Regions from separate parts of the Homo sapiens genome. Here region 2 is linked to region 1. A link means that fine-mapping ties the variant in region 1 to the expression of a gene that starts in the linked region. Tissue or cell type: whole blood. Region 1 holds a variant in brackets; the other region holds the start of a gene. All regions are shown on one strand. Distances are between the middles of the regions.

Region 1 (8,110 bases):
GTGGAGCACCTAAAATCTTGCTATCTAGTTTAAAACCTGTCAAGGAGAGTAGAGGGAAGCACTAGAAACAGGAACTATGCAATCATAAACTTGTACTATGGGAGACACCCTAGTGAACAACAACCCCCTCACCACACTTTACTGTTTAGATTCTGGCTCCCTTTCAAATAAGAAAGGTACAATATAGCGATTATTATTATTATTATTTTTTTTTTTTTTGAGTTGGAGTTTCACTCTTGTTGCCCAGGCTGGAGTGCAATGGCACCATCTTGGCTCACCGCAACCTCCGCCTCCTGGGTTCAAGCAACTCTCCTGCCTCAGCCTCCCGAGTAGCTGAGATTACAAGCATGCACCACCATGCCCACTAATTTTATATTTTTAGTGGAGATGGGGTTTCTCCATGTTGGTCAGGCTGGTCTGGAACTCCCAACCTCAGGTGATCCGCCACCTCAGCCTCCCAAAGTGCTGGGATTACAGGCATGAGCCATCGCACCCAGCCCAATATAGTGATTATTTTTTAATGGGCAATAGTAATAATCCTTCTACTTAAATAGGATTTTCCACAGGAGGAAGCTTTGGGTTTAATCAATAGGATTCACTCTATTTGCCCACGGCTTAGAGGCCAGCAAAAGTTCAGCAACCTTCTTCAATTCACATGGTCAGTTGAGAATGATCCATTTGCAAAACTTAAACATCAAGATAATCCAATTCTGCGGAGGGTGCTGCCTGCTCTGCTGCCATATGAGGCATTTGTGTGAGAAAACCCAAGCAGCCAAAACTCATACCTAATCCTTGGGACTTGGAGATTTCATTTACCTTAAGTCTTTTGGGGTTGAGTTATCTTGGCAACCTGTAGCGTCTAAGCATGCAGTATCTGTATCAAGGAACGGCTTATAAAATTCATCCAAAAGGACTCCCAAGATTCTGGGGGCATCAAATAGCTCACACACAACATTTTGCAAGGAAATGAGTCAGCACTAGGTAGATTCCATTTTTCAAGTAGAGTGCTAGCTTCCTGTCCTACTATCTCCAGTCCTGGGAGGAGAGCCTCAACGGGGAGAGGAAGATTGAAGATTTTCTGGGCATGGTGAGCTTGGGTTTCCTTTGAGCCGTAAGTGTTTATGAAAACAATAAGGAATATTAGATAATATCAAAACATGTTCAAGATGACTTTGCTTTAGGCAAAAACCATGCATTTCTAAAGCTAGCCATGGGCCTCCTAAAAGTTCCTCTTTGTGGTCACTAACCCAAGTTGACTGACCCCAATACATTTAGCAACAAATGATGAGTTTACATTCATGTTCTCAGCACCAAATTCTTTAATCTTTAGCTTTGTAACTTAATAGATATACTGTGAGTCTTATAAATGAAGGAATACAAATAAGAACCAGGTCTATTTGGTATCTGTGATGCACCAGCTCTACAAGAGGGGCTTTTCCAGTAAATAAGATTCAAATTTACCAATATCCTTTAGAGTAGTCAGTCGTTATGAGATGGGCTGTGGAATGAATCTGTCCTAATTCATTCCCGGATCCTCCACCCATGGCTGGGTGACCTAATTTAACCCCTCTGTGCCTCAGTTTTTCGGTCTGTAAAGTGTGGATAAGAAGACCTTCTAGTTCAAATATCAAGTGTCTTAGGCCTGCAAACGAACAACTTTTTAGTAAACTTTTAGAGCAGCCTTCTAAAGCAATCAGGGAGGAGAGGGAAAGATACACAAAACAAGCCAGTTGGATTTTGCCAAAATCAGTTCCTTGTCCCTGTCAACCACCTGGCTTCATGGTCATTCCATGTCCCCTGTTTTCCCAAGGACATAATCAGGGATATAGCTACTTTGTGCCTCACTGCCCCTGGCTGTGGGCTTCCCTGGGGAGATCAAGATAGGCTTTATAAGTCCTTTGCCCCGTCATGAAACAGTACCCTGACTACACACTCAGCCTGGTCTGGTATGAGCACCCACTTCCAGTCTAGACGGCAGCCTAAGAGAGGGGCTAATGCTAGGTTGCACCAGACTGAGCCTCATACTTGTCATGGCTCTGCCCACGGTGATTCCTTTGATCTTGATCCTAGCAAACCACAGTCATCGACAAAGGTAGAATGGATTTCTGCTTCTGAAAAGCTTTGATGGAAACTCCCTTGATTTCCCATTCCCTCCCCAGCCCTTCTGCTCCTTTAGATTTACCTCCAACATTTAGTCCTAAATCCAGCTGTAAATCCAGCCTGAGAGAGCCCATCAAACCGGCATGATTCATGTGCCATCCTGTTTGGATATCTGGGGCCATAGCTGACCCACTTGGGAAAGTACACGGTCATTTTTACTTCGCCAGGCATCCTAATCACAGATTCCAGGCTCAGTATTCTTTGTTTAATTTTCTCTGAGAATTGGCTGGACTGTGATCTGATCCTCAGAGAAAGGCAATCATTTCTAAAGGGTAGATTTTTAGAAAAGTTTGCAATTACAAACAACGAAAAATATATGCAGGCTTTCTGCGGTTATGCTGAAGGAATGTGCAGGACATCCATGCCCCTGTCATCTCAAGGCTCTCTTCTAAAATCAGGACCTGTTTCCAGGGCTCTTTGCAGCAGTGTTTCCCTTTCATTTCTTGTGTGAAGAAAGGAAGTAACTTGAGAAAGCAACTTTTAAGAAACTTGAAACACGTTTACTTGTTTCCCAGGCTTCAGGTTAGGGCTGATGGCTCCACAAAGTAAGTGCAGCCAGATTCATGAAACTCGTAACGTTTTGGAGGTGATGTCTAACTGACCGTCTCATTCTACAAATGAGAGCACTAAAACCTTGGAAAAGCTAAAGCTTGCTGGAGGCCTAAGTGATTTCACAAACAGAGCTTGTCTGGAACTTAGTACTTTTAATTCCTAAGCCAGTGCCTATGCCCTAAGCCAATAGGTAATCCAGTGGGCAGTGGTCCCCAAGGCAGGCCAGGCCTGAGCTACTGATAACCCTCTTTATCCCAGTCCTGTGAAACATCAATTTCAGTTAATGCCAATAGCTTCAGGGGCAGTTTTTCAAAGCCCTCTCTCCAGGACATCAGCCTGGATGCAGAGCACAGAGAAATAAAATAATTTACATAGTTTACTAACTCTAAAACTCAGAACTGAGAAGAGAAAGGGCCAGTTTTTCCATATGCAGACTTCAACCTTCTCAAGACCCAAATGACAGGTAAAAATACACATTCGAATGTCTCTCCTTGCACACACACCGTCAAGACCACTTTGCCTTCCCTCTTTCCCAAAGCGAAAGAATGGATATGCTGGGAGTGTTTGGTAGCCTGCTATCAGAAGAAAATAGAGACATCATCATTTTCCCTTTTTGACATTTTTTTTTCCTGCCAGTAAAAGAGAGAGAAACTTGCTTAGGGATCAAAATATTAGCTGGAGAAAGAATTTACAGGGGTGCTGGCAGCTGGTTGGCTGTAGAGGGAGAAAGCCTGTGGGGTGTGGACCGCCAGTCTCGGAAAAGCGCACTGCAGAGCAGGGTGCAGGAGAACCCAGCAAAGCAGGATTTGACAGGTGCCTGGCTCAGGCTCCCACTGGCCAGGCAATCGTCAGCTCTGTTCTGCTTGGCTCTCTTAAACAACAAGTTAAGAGCCAGCTGCTTTCTGCGCTTGGCTCTGAAATCAGCAGGTCTCTCTGCTCTGTTCAGCGGAGGCATCCCCAGCAGGGAGTTAGTCAGGGTACTGGCTAGAGCCTTCATGCCTCAGAGTAAAGGCTTATGAAGGAGGTAATTACGCAGCTGGAAATGGGCAGGCCCTTAGGGCAAAAGAGAAAGAAAGGAAGGTGATCTTCTCACTTACTTAATGCTTAAAAGAAAAAAAATACCCTATGCCTGTCAAAGAGAAGCATCCTAGTATTAGTGGTGCTATGATCAGAGATCCCCTCTCCCTTACCCATTGTGTGGTTACTAAATCAACACAGGAAGCCTGTCCACAAGACTTCAATGTCAACATTGCCCGCCCCTACCTGACCACCAATTTTGCATTGATTAGCTTCCATGATTCCCTGTCAGGCAATTTAGTTGTTTAGTTGCTGGTTAGTTGTTTCTATTTTCCTGAGCATTCTTCTCAAACCTGTTCCCAATGTTTATACTCTGGAGCTACTGACCACCCTTTCCTTTCCCGAACTCTTCCACTGTCATCAATTCCTCGAGAGGTCAACATTACTGCGGGCAGAAGGAAAGATGGCTGACCCTGGCCCTGGACTTCCTTCCCTCTGACACACTGAATACCCTTCGTCAAAAAACCATAATCCAAACTGCAATGTTGGTGCCT[A/G]TAAGAGAGCTAGTCCCGCTCTCCTCAGAGAGCCCAGCTTGGAGATTTCTGATGTTGAAGTTACCTGCCAATTAGAATGGCCACATTGCAAAATCCACGTGTATTTTACACAGAACAGCCACTTCAGATCTTCATTCACTCAAGGGCCTGCAGTTGTATCTGTTAAAGGTGTCACAATAAATGAACTCATTAAAGTACCACTCGTTTTTTTGATTTCTTGCAAGGTTAGCAATTAGAAATTTTTTTCCTTAGCTTCAGAAAACGTTCTTTAAACAAAAGCTTGCTTGGAAGAGATAAACTGGCAACTGCTCTGGTTGAGGAAGAAGTAGTGGGGTATTCTGTGCTCTGGCCCTTAGTCCCGTGAAGCATGATTTAGGAAACTAATTTGTCCTAGTGTCTCCCTTTTTTTTTTTTTTTTTTTTTTTTTTTTGAGACGGAGTCTCGCTCTGTCGCCCAGGCTGGAGTGCAGTGGCGCAATCTCTGCTCACTGCAAACTCCGCCTCCTGGGTTCACGCCATTCTCCTGCCTCAGCCTCCCGAGTAGCTGGGACTACAGGCACCCGCCACTACGCCCAGCTAATTTTTTGTATTTTTGGTAGAGATGGGGTTTCACCATATTGGCCAGGATGGTCTCCATCTCCTGACCTCATGATCTGCCCGCCTCGGCCTCCCAAAGTGTTGGGATTACAGGCGTGAGCCACCGCGCCCGACCTAGTGTCTCCCATATTTGAACACTTCTTCCTTTCATGCTTGCCTCTTTGGAATATTCGTTTATTTCATAAAACTTAAGGCTATTTTGACATCTTTTAAAATTGCATCAAACAACTTTACTTTCTCCTCAAGTTATGTTATGATTGTCTGTTGTTACTCAATGCAAAATAGTCATTTCCCATCAAGTTTCTTTTGTTTCCACTCAATGTTTTCTCTCCAACTCACCAGCATTTCCTAGCTGCCATTCTTTCTCTTCCCAATTTGACACTCTTTTCATCCAGCTTGGTCTGGCTTCCAAATCACCCTTTCTTAGTACTTTCATCCTACAACAACATTTAATTTAGTATTTTGTGGTTGAAATGATCCAGAGAGGATCAGAGAATTGGAGTGACTTGCCTAAGATCACACCACTAATATGGCAGAGTAAAGACAGAACTCAAGCTTTTCAACAGCTTGGCTCCCCTTTCTTCCTCTTTTGTTCCTCTACTGGCTCTTTAGTTCTCACTCTGGTCCACATGTGTATAGACCCAGTCAATAGTTTCTATGGATATCCTGACTGCCCCTATAAAATAAGTGGGTTGCATTAGCAATTTCCAATGTCATCTTTCAGCTTCATCTTTCTATGAGGAATGGGAGTGGTTAAGATCATTGACACTGATCAAACCATTCAGGCTTTATTCTAGTAGAGGTAAAACTCTTTTGACAATTCTTAAGTATACAGGTAACTTTCTATTAAACGGTTTCCTCTTGCACATACTTTGGTCTCCAGCCCTAGCCAAAACCCAGGCATGCAGAACTGGCAAACTGCTTGGAGGAAGACCTTCCAAAGATCTCAGAAATTTCAAGAAAGGCTTTTGTGGTATTTCTGGCCCAGCCAGAATCAGGAAGTACCTGATCACTCACAAGGAAACTAGTTTTTGCACAATTTCCAACATCTCCCCCCACAACCCCCACTTCATCCTAAAGCCTTTCTTGAGCCACACATTCCTGCCCCTTCCCCAAACACAGGTTTCTGCAGAGTCAAAACTTTTGATAGTTCAGATAAGGTTCAAATGAGCTGCTGAACTCTTGGAGGCTGGAAGTGAACCTAGCATTTTGTTCCTTGCTCATCCCCGGTAATGAGTATACCAGGCTGGCTATGTCAAGGTGGTTTGGGTCACATAGTGAAAATCAACATAATTGAAAGCATTAATCAACAAACAATTACATGTAATGGTACAGAATGACTACTTATGAGGCCTTACATGATTCTGACCAAATCTGCCTATGGTAATAACAGGAGGCACACAACTGTACCAGAGGGTTTTTGTTTTGTTTTGTTTTTTCAAGAAATAAATGCTGAGGGCTTGCTTTGGTTCAAAAAAAAAAAAAAAAGAAAGATGCTTTCAAAGGTAGAGATGAGGAGAACAAGATTTGTGTTATGGAGCCAATGAACTTCAAATTATCCTCCAAATGTAAAGTATATTCTAGATATTTTACTGGGTAGAGCGGGAAAAAAGCTTCAACACATTTCAAGTGGATGTTGCTTTGAGTTTTTCTTTAAGATGCTTACTTTAGAAGACAGATTTCATTATGCTTTAGTTGCTTTCAATCATTAGAACTTTGGAGTTGATTTTGAAATACTTATTTCTTGCATGAACTTGGGGAAGTAGGGGAAGCAATTAGATCTTGTGATTTTTAAGGCTACACTGAGGATAAGGTAAGAAAATATCATAAATTTTATTTCATGCTTTCTTGCCAATTGACAGAAATGTGCAGTCCATATGAATTCATATAACAAGGGTGGAATGTTGGAAAAACCAATAAAGATTTTGTGGTCTGACCTATAATAAATGTAGTTTGATTTAGAGTCTGTTTTTCACAACATGGCAAAATGAATCATAAAATAATGGGCCCTGAAACTCCTGTACTTTTTAACAATAGCCTGGGGACAGTTTACTGTGTAATGAATTGTAATTAACCCACCTTCAAAATATTTTATGAGTATTTTGCCAATTAGCTTCGCATGCTTGCTAATGACTCATGGCTAGTGCATGTCTTTACAGAACCGGATTTTACAGAGCACATCGCCCTGTTAACTCAGCACAAGTGTGCAACATGGGAAGGATGACATAGGTAGGTTGGAACACCCTCAACAGCATCCCTACTTTGCCAACCCAGTGGACTCAGCCATCATCCCCCAAGCCTAAGATAATCATAATGGCTTGTGGTGTCAGAGAACTTTGGTTTCTGATGGATTGCAAGGAATGCTTCTCTCCCTGCAGACACATCTGTTGTTACTTAGCACTAACATATATAATGCTACTAATTGTGGAGCCATCTTTGTTTTCTTTACTTAGCACTCTGGTTAGCATTATTTTATCTTCATGGTTCATGGATTTCTGCCACTGACAACATAAGTCCACTCTAGAGAAAATAAAACAACTACCAAGCTGTCTCCTTACATTGCTTTGCTTTGAAATTAGAGGGATCGTGTACAGCCAAGCATGCTTCCTAGGATTCTAGCTCTGATCTTGCTATGTCAAGAGTTGGCTTTTCCTTGAAAAACTAGTGCTTCCACTGGCCTGTGAACTGACTAAAGGGACTGCAGAAAGAAGCCCAGTCTGGCTCTAAATTCCATGCACTGAGAAAGTTAATCGCAGGCAAGGTCAAACGTTCCCAACTCTTTGTTCTTCAGAGGCCAAGCCAACAAATTCCAAAGCCAATTTAAGAGATCTAACCAGAGATGGCAAAATAGTTCCATTTTCATTTCATTCAACTATGAATAAAGAATCTATAAGGATTAATTAAGGATCTATATAATTAAGGATCTATAATGTCACCAGTGTTTTTTCTGCCAGCAAGGTCGTATACCATAATAAAGATATAGAGGCTAATTTTCAGTAGTATAACACAATAATGTAGTGCTTGGGGAAATCTAAACTACACAGGAATTATTTCACCCTGATGCCTAGAAAAGTAAACAGCAGCTTTTAGCCTCACTCCTTAAGGCAATGGTGGTCTAAATTGCAGGGAAATCTTGTTACATAAAAAAGGCTACTCTAAAGAAGGCCAAAGACAAAGGGGAAAAAGTTTGAGTTCCTCCTGAGGGTTCTGCTTATATCCTAGGGGGTATTG
Region 2 (8,110 bases), 120 kb after region 1:
ATAAGATTGATTGTAGTATTGATCTCCCACGGGGATTAGATTGGGATTCAAAATCTTCCAAACCAGGCCCAGATCAACTATAAATTAGAAAGACTTTGGGGCCCTGGGCTTTGATTTTTCAATACTATCTCTGAAAACTCTGCCCTTGGCTCTGTCTACCCTAAAACCCTGGCTTAAGCGGCAGATTTATAGAGCAAAAGCTTCCAAACAGACTTAAAGAAATCTCAATCTGCCTCCCTTTTTCTCCTTTTCCCTCTGTGGAATTCTTGCACGTTTAGCTGACTAGAGGCATGCCTTTTGCCCTCATCTTCCCCATCACTTGATTTCTCTCCAATTCTTCCAGGAGGAGTAGCTCTTCTGGCTGCAAGCCAGGAAGAGGGTGCGGAGTTACTAAAGGGGAATCCCTGGCTCCCCCACCACACAAGCAGTGAGTTAAAATCAGATTCAGAAACGATAGTACAGAAGCAAGAGTGGAAACGTCCGCTGGTGCCCCGGCCAAGCTGCCTCTACAGGGACGGCTGCAGTCTGCCCACGGTGGAGGGCTTTGCAGGGTGACTCCCCGCCCCCACGCCCTGCTCCATGCCTCACCTTCATGGTGGAAGCTGCGCACAGTGTTGGCTCGGCTGGCTGCCCTCTCCAACCGGTGGTCTGGGGCGGGTGAGCCCGGCTGACCTGAGTGCCTGCGATACAGGTCTAGCATGTAGGGGGGCACCACGGCGTCCCTGCTGGGGGTGGGTCTCTGTTTCAGGCCGAACATGCTGAGCAGCCGCAACTCGAACTCGCTCAGGACCTCGTCAGAGGGCTGGGATGAGGGGCGGCCCGACGACGCCGCCGCGAACTTCCTGCGGCCCAGCTCCGGAACGAGGCCAGCCGCGCCGCCCAGGAGGACCTGGGGAAGCAGCAACGCTAGAAGACAGCGGGTCCCGGCCACCATGGTCGACCTGCGGACAGGACCGACGTGAGTCACCCGAGTTCCCCGCCCAGTCCTCCCCCCTCGCGCCCCCGCGGCCCGGTCTCCCATTTGGCTGGCGTGCCTCCTCCAGGATGCCCTCCTGGCTTGGCACACTCACGAGTCTAGGTAAGACCGACCGAAGCTCAAACGTTTGGGATAATGAAGGGTCCCAAGTTCCTGAACCAGATGATTTATCGCTCCCATCCAACGCTTAGCTCGTCTGACATCAGATTTGGGATTTGCCCTCCCCCCCAACCAAACCAGCGCCAATGACTGTCACTTTTTTGTGTGTGACACAGCGCTGACAGCCAATGCCGGGAACCTGGGAAAACCACCGCTTGATCTGACACCCTGCGTCCCCTATACAAACCCAAATGCGGAGTGCTGAGCGCTGTCTGGCATATAAACACACATAAATGGTGCATGTGACTTCCTTAGAGGCACTGTATAGAACTTCCTGACACACACACACACACACACACACACACACACACACCCTTATAGCTTCCAGACCCTGTAAGCTCAAGGCCACAACTTCTGAAGCCACTTATGACTTGTGTCCCAGGCCCCTACCCTCAGGGGTGTCTCGAAAGGCAGCTCCATCCCGCATCCCCACAGTGCAGTCAAGATACACATGTATCTTCCCGGGATTACGTAAATGGTGAATATCTATTAATGCACGTGTCAGCTGTTAAAAACACAGTACCAAGTGATCCTTCAGTACTGACCCCTCGCATTTCTGGAAACAAGTAGGGAGAACCCCAAACTCCTAGTACTTTCCTAAATGGGACACGGCTCTGAGCAAAGAAACCAAGTCTCCCGGAAACACTTGAAGAATGGAGATCACCATGGCAGAGCGGACAGGTTCTCAGCTAACGGGTGAAACCCAGGGGCTACCCTCTCAAAGGGATTTCTTTGACCCAAAAAAGTTTTTAAAAAAATTAAAAATAAATAAATAAATAAATAAAACACCTCATCTAAGTGTTAACAGCTCCAAAAGTATTCCAGGGAGAGGGGAAGAAAGAGGGGTGGAAGAGTGCGGGCCGGGAGGGTGAGGCTTACGGTCGCCCGGGGCAGCTGGAAGTGGGAGCCCCTGCAGGGCTCCGTTGCACGTGGACTGGAGAGGGGTCTGTTTACTTCTGGCCTGGACGTAAGGAAGGGCTCTACCGCAGTGGCTGCCCAAATCCCCCTCCCACCCACCACCCACCCCGGGCCCTGGCCCGCGTCCTCTACCTTTAGGAGACCGCAGTCCGTCTAAGAAGCACGCGGGGACACGTCCATTGAAAGAGCGTCCACATGGAAAAACTCTGGTCAAAGGACCTGGCGCAAGGACCGAATGTCCGTTCCTTTTCTTTGCCTCCTCCTTCTCCCGGGTGCCGGCCGCGCAGTCTCTCTTTTCACGCTGGGAACAGCGTCTCAGTGTCGGGCAAGGCCGAGGAGTGGAGGGGCGGTGGGGCTCGGAGATGGCGAAGCAGGCTCCGCTGGGGCAAAGGCACCGGCGCAAAGTGGGGTGCGCAAGTTATTCTCCCTGCAAGTTCAAGAAGTCCCCAGCCAAGTGCTGACACACAACAACAGCGAGCAGGGGGAGGAGTGCGGGGCAGGGAAGGGAAGGGAGAAAGGAGAAGCTGGTGCTGTCGTCCTCCTTAGGAACCAGCGCCCGAGGGACGCGTGGCCCCGCGCGGGGCCGGCTCCGGGACTCGGGGGTCGAGGGTCGGGCGCTCCGCGCTAGCTCCGCCGCGGCCCATGGCTCGGGGCAGCCATCCTGGGCGACGCCGGGTCCAGGGAAGGGCACGGCGGCGATCTCGGTGCCAGGCGAGTTGCCCCCCCGCATCACTCTGCCTTACTCCAGTGCACCCCCATTCGCGCTCGCCAGTTGAAAGCACCGCGGCTCTGGCGCCCCGTCGTCCTCGGGCGCATTCTCCGGCGAGTCGAGCCGAGTCCCGGGCCGCCGAGGCGGGTGGCTGTGCTCTCCCCTCGCTCTCCTAGCCCTGGGGCCAAGTGCCCTTTGTGGCTAGCCTGGGGTCCGATCACACCTCGGCCAGCGCGTCCCAGGCCCCCGATCTCCTGCAGTAGGTGCTCCGCATCGCGGCGCTAGGGATCGGCTCCGGAGTCCCCGGCGCTCTGCGCGCCCGTCCGCGGCTCTGGCGCAGCCCGGGCAGCAGAGGCCACGGCGCTGTGGCGCGCTCTGCCGGGTGCTCCAGCCCGCGCGGGGTCTGCGGCGCGCGGGTGCCTCGCGGTCCCCGGTGATCCACTCGGCGCTGGCCCCGAGAACGTTCGGGTAGCCGGCGGAGGCTGTGGCGGCAGATGTGCGGCGGCGGCTGCCAGTCCCCGGCGGGGTGTGGGAAGCGGAGCGACTAGCGCAGCGCGAGCCGGGCGCAGCGCGGCGGGGCGAGGACTCCGGCGGCGGCGACGGCGGCGGCGGCGCCGTGGCGCGGCGCTCGCGGCTTTTAAAGGGGACGCCGCCTGCCGGCTCCCTCCCGGCCGCGGCCGAACACCTCCCCCTTCGCGGCGCGGCTCGCCGGGGATCCCCGAGCGGGCGGGAGCTGCGCGCAGGGGTGTGGACGGCGCGCCCGGGCAGCCGCGGCGGGGTGGGGCGGAGGGCGGGGGCGCGCGGCCGCCAAGGGGGGCGCTCGCGCCTCCACTCCCTGCTCTCAAAGGAGAGATCAGCTGGCGCGCCGGACCCTCGCGGGGACTCTGGAGGCGAAATCCAGGACAAATGCAGGGTCAGGGTCTGGCCTCTTATTTCCCCGCTGGGCCCGTTATTCAACTTTCAGTTTGAAGTTTTTCGGTAATATACGATTTCAAAAAACAAAACAAAACAAAACACCTCAATTACAGCGTATTTTGGCATAGCATAGACGTGGGATCCACGCTTCTGTTTCCCCGGAATAGGAGGAAAATTAAAAGAAAACAGCAGGCTGGAAATTGAGTGTTTTTAAACATTAATACATAGAGATGTATGTATTTACATATGTAAATGCATGTGTACAAATTTTTTTACATAAATGTGTATGCATTTATTTTCATATCCATACGCATGTAAATTTATAGTTACATAAATATATCCAATATACAAAAATATGTGCATATATTTCTATAAATATATTCATGTATGAGAATATATGCAACCGAAGGGCCACATTTCGGTTAATATGTCTATGTATGTGACATGGATGTCATCCTGCTTTACGTGACATGTGTGTAACGTAGACTGCGTGTGTGGCAGACTGAAGGATGGATGGGAGGGATTTGATTTTTTTATTGTACAATCACTTTGTGCCTTGTGATATTTATCTCACCCAGCTCAGAGGCAGGCGATTAGCAGCTCAGAGGAAGGTAAAATAACGCACTGTGTGAACCAAGCATACAGGACAATTCCAGTTTGGGACCTTGGAACCTTCTACGCCACCCTCTTCCACCAGGCCCCCAAGAAGTAGGGCTGTGACACGTGGCCAAGTCACTCCTCAGCTGAATATTCACTGAAGTCACTCCTCAGCCGAAATACTGCTCAGAGCTGCTGCACGATGAGTCTGGGGCCAAGGCTTTCTGCCCTTCCCAGGATTCCAGGAGCCCCCATGCACAGCACCTCGGGCTTGCCCAAATGATCCCCAAAACCAAGGGCAGAAAATTTTTGGAAAAGGCCAAGTTCTGCTTTCCCAGAGCTATCGGGCCTGCGAAACAGAGAGAAAAAAGTCAGAAGCAGGAGCTGGTAATAGAACTATTATCCATGTGTATTATTTTTTCGGTAGGGGAGCTAAAATAATACTAGGTTCCGCTCACGTAAATCGGATTAGCAACCCACAGAGGCGAATTAGGCACTTGCTGTTTCTAAAGGTATAAAGGTCAAATAAGGTATTTTGGAGGAAGCCTGACTACCAGGAAAATAAAAGGGGGTGGGGGAATTATTCAGGAACATGCTACTTTATTTCCTGAAAAAAAAAAAAAAGGTGCTATAGAAGTTGATTGTCACTCAGAGTCATTGCACCGCAAACAAGGAGGCAATAAAACATATCCTACTCATGGACACAGGGCTTCTGAAATTATTTCCTTTCCTATCAAGTTTAATTGAGAAGTTAACAATTGTTTCTCTCATTACTTAGATTTCAAAAACAAAACAAAACAAAACTTCAATGAGATTTAAGTAGCTTTTAAAGAGGAGGAAAAGTTGATAACTATTGGATGCACCCGAAGAAAAAATAAATAAATATCCTGTGATGACCTCAAGGATGTCTTGCAGCTTTAGAACTTCATAACCTGGTAAGTGGAAACCTTGTCAGTTTAGAATCTGAGGGAAAATGGGTACTTCTGAACACTGTTTCATGTTAGTGCTGCCCATTGCAGAATCTCTTTTATGTAGGGTGTATGATTTCTGAGGAACTACTGAATGCTTGTTCCAAGCACAACTTACATAAATTTTGGCCCTATTTTTTTTTTTTTAGAGATGGCTGCCCTCTTGTGGTGGAAATGAGTTCGAACGCTTGAAAGAAAGAAGTCCATAAATAAATAAATAAATAAATAAGTAGTCTCCAGAGACTGATTTGGGATCGAAGTACAGGATGACTGTACCTACCCGTTTTCCAGGGAAGAGCAATAGTCAGAAATGATAAATCTAAATACAGACGAGCTATTTCTTTTTTTTTTCTCTCTCTTCACTAATGGCTACCTTCCACCTGCAACTTAGAATGCTGGGTTATTTAATACTTTGGGAGAGTGTCTGTTTGCCTTGAAAATATCACTTGCAGCTAACCATTGTCAATTCTACCGTTTTCAAAGGTCCATTCAAAGTTTTTCAGTTCAGAGGGTGAGATTCAGTCTTGCTGAGTTTATCAGACTTAGTGCATCTGCCAGCAAATGTGGAAGGGGCAGAGGTGGGAGTGGGGAGTTGTTTAAGATAGGGATAGTAGAAGTTGCAAATTCAAATGCATCAGAGGGTACAGACAAGTTATGTAAAAAAGCAAAGATGACCAGATAATGATTCCACATAAAGGAGGTTGTTGCTATTCCATTTCAGTCATCTCTTGGCAGTTTCTCAGGAGATAGTGGAAATTTGCATTTGATTGTGTGTGGACAAGACTCGGGATGAAATTAACTGCTTACAGTCATACTTTAGCAATTTTAGCACTTCAGCTCACATGATATTCCATTTTATTGCATTCTGTAGCTATTAGCATTCAGTATTGTTCTTGCTAGGCCAAACATTATGCAAATCAACATTAAAATAGTGATCCCCATGTATTGTAAAGTTCACAGCAGGCATTACGTGATCCATCTACCTTGTAATTGTCATTCCATGGAAACCTGTGGCAACTGCCCTGAGAAACCCTCTTTGCTTTTTAGCATACATATCGCTTTGTTACAAGGGTGACACCCATAACCATCCCTACTTACTTTACCTGGATGAAGTTTTTTTTACAGGAACTTGGAGCCAAGGCAAAAGAGAAGCATTTAGTCAATCAAATGTTTTCCTTTTTGGTGTTTGATTAGACATGGTAGAAAGGATGGGAGAGGTGGAGTGATTTATATCAGAAACTAGGCCAAGTTGGCCAAATCAGGATCACTGCTTTCAGCAAGTACCAACTACATCTTCTTAAAAATTAAAAAGAATGAATTTTGTGCATTGATTAGACTGTCACACAGTTTAAGATGTACACCTTAAGTTATGTCTGTAAACTATGTTGATAACACTCTAAGATGTAGTTGGGTGACCTGGGTTCTAATTCCTGGTTCTGTCATGGATGACTGACTTTAAAATGGTCATTTCATCTGTTAATTGGGGTAAATAAATATATGTTTGCTTGCTTCAGACTGACATGATGAAGGTCAAATGGATAACATGTGTGAACTTAGTTTCTGATTGCTACTCACTCTATGTATCTTCAAATGTATTCTTTGGCCTTCTGTCTGCAATATGGCCTGGTTTTAAGAAATAGGACTTTGGATGCCTTTCTTCTCCTCCTCTTTCTCCTCCTTCTCCTTCTCTTCTCCCAGCTTTTATTATATTGCCAAACAGTGGATATTTCATCAGAAAGGCCACCAGTTGGGTCAGTCAATCTAAAGCAGAGGTCCCCAACCATTTTGGCACCAGGGACCAGTTTTGTGGAGGAAAATTTTTCTACAGACCAGGTTGGGGGTGATGGTTTCAGGATGAAACGGTTCCACGTCAGATCGTCAGGCATTAGTTAGGTTCTCATAAGGAGCATGCAACCTAGATCCCTCATACATGCAGTTCACAGTAGGGTTTGAGCTCCTATGAGAATCTAATGCTGCTGCTGATCTGACAGGAGGCAGAGCTCAGGCAGTAATGCTCCCTCACCTGCCCCTGGGGGTTCCTAACAGGCCATGGACAAGTACTATTCATGGCCCGGGGGTTGGGGACCTCTGATCTATGGCAGTAACAAATTCTCATAGCCTCGGCTCCCTCATGAATACTCTATAGAGACTAACAGTTGACTTCTCATGGAGGTTGTGAAGAATAAATGAGAAGATATGTGTGAAGACAACAAAAGGTTGCAAATTTGTATTACTATATACATGCAAATTAAGGCCATCGGTTCTGGTTCTCGAAAGATGTGAGTTTATCTTATGTGATTTTCTTTTGCACTTGGTAGATTTCAAAAATATGGGTTGAATGAGCACATGCTTCTGGAAAATGATTATAGTCTTCAAAATAAGACTCCCCTGAGAAGCCTGTTGGCTTTTTAGCATGAGTAACACTTTGTTACTAGTGCAACACCCAATACCGGTTCTGATTACTTTACCTCCATGAAATTCTTTCATGGGAACCCCGGGAGCCACAGCAAAAGAGCAGCATTTAGTCATTCAAATGTTTACCTATTTTGCATTTGATTAGACATAATAGGAAGGATGAGTGGAGTGGGGTAATTTATATGCAAAGCCTAAGCCAGGCCAAATTGGCCAAGTACGATTGTTTTAAATATCCACTACATATTATTTAATTATCATATACTAATACATTTGCATACCTTGTCAATGATATTAAAATGTTTTGACTTTCTGTTAAATAGACTGTGAAGAGTCAACTATAGTATTTCCTTTTACATACAGTCTACAAATATTTATTGAGCAACTACAAAGCCCACGGCACTATGTTATTGGGCTCCAGTTAATACAAAAGTACATAATCTCTGCACATAATTT

Evidence for each region. PIP is the estimated chance that this variant, and not a neighbour inherited with it, causes the effect.
Region 2: BMP2 starts here. The variant in region 1 is fine-mapped to the expression of BMP2 in whole blood (TOPMed, PIP 0.99).

The regions. Positions count from the first base shown.
Region 1 is chr20:6,882,063-6,890,172 of GRCh38, reverse strand. No RefSeq gene overlaps it. Among named protein-coding and RNA genes, the nearest start is that of BMP2, 120 kb to the right of the region's middle. The variant A/G (reference allele first, on the strand shown) is at 4,284.
Region 2 is chr20:6,762,951-6,771,060 of GRCh38, reverse strand. BMP2 (bone morphogenetic protein 2) reads right to left here and starts at 3,375. Exons shown (of 3, transcript NM_001200.4): 1 at 2,186-3,375; 2 at 589-941. The coding sequence starts at 934. LOC105372517 (a long non-coding RNA gene) reads left to right here and starts at 3,577. Exons shown (of 4, transcript XR_937229.2): 1 at 3,577-3,740; 2 at 4,256-4,661; 3 at 5,053-5,209; 4 at 5,392-5,468. RefSeq lists cis regulatory regions at 2,696-2,870, 3,511-3,610, 3,617-4,407, silencers at 3,242-3,291, 3,382-3,431 and promoters at 2,321-3,480, 2,870-3,511, 2,321-7,199.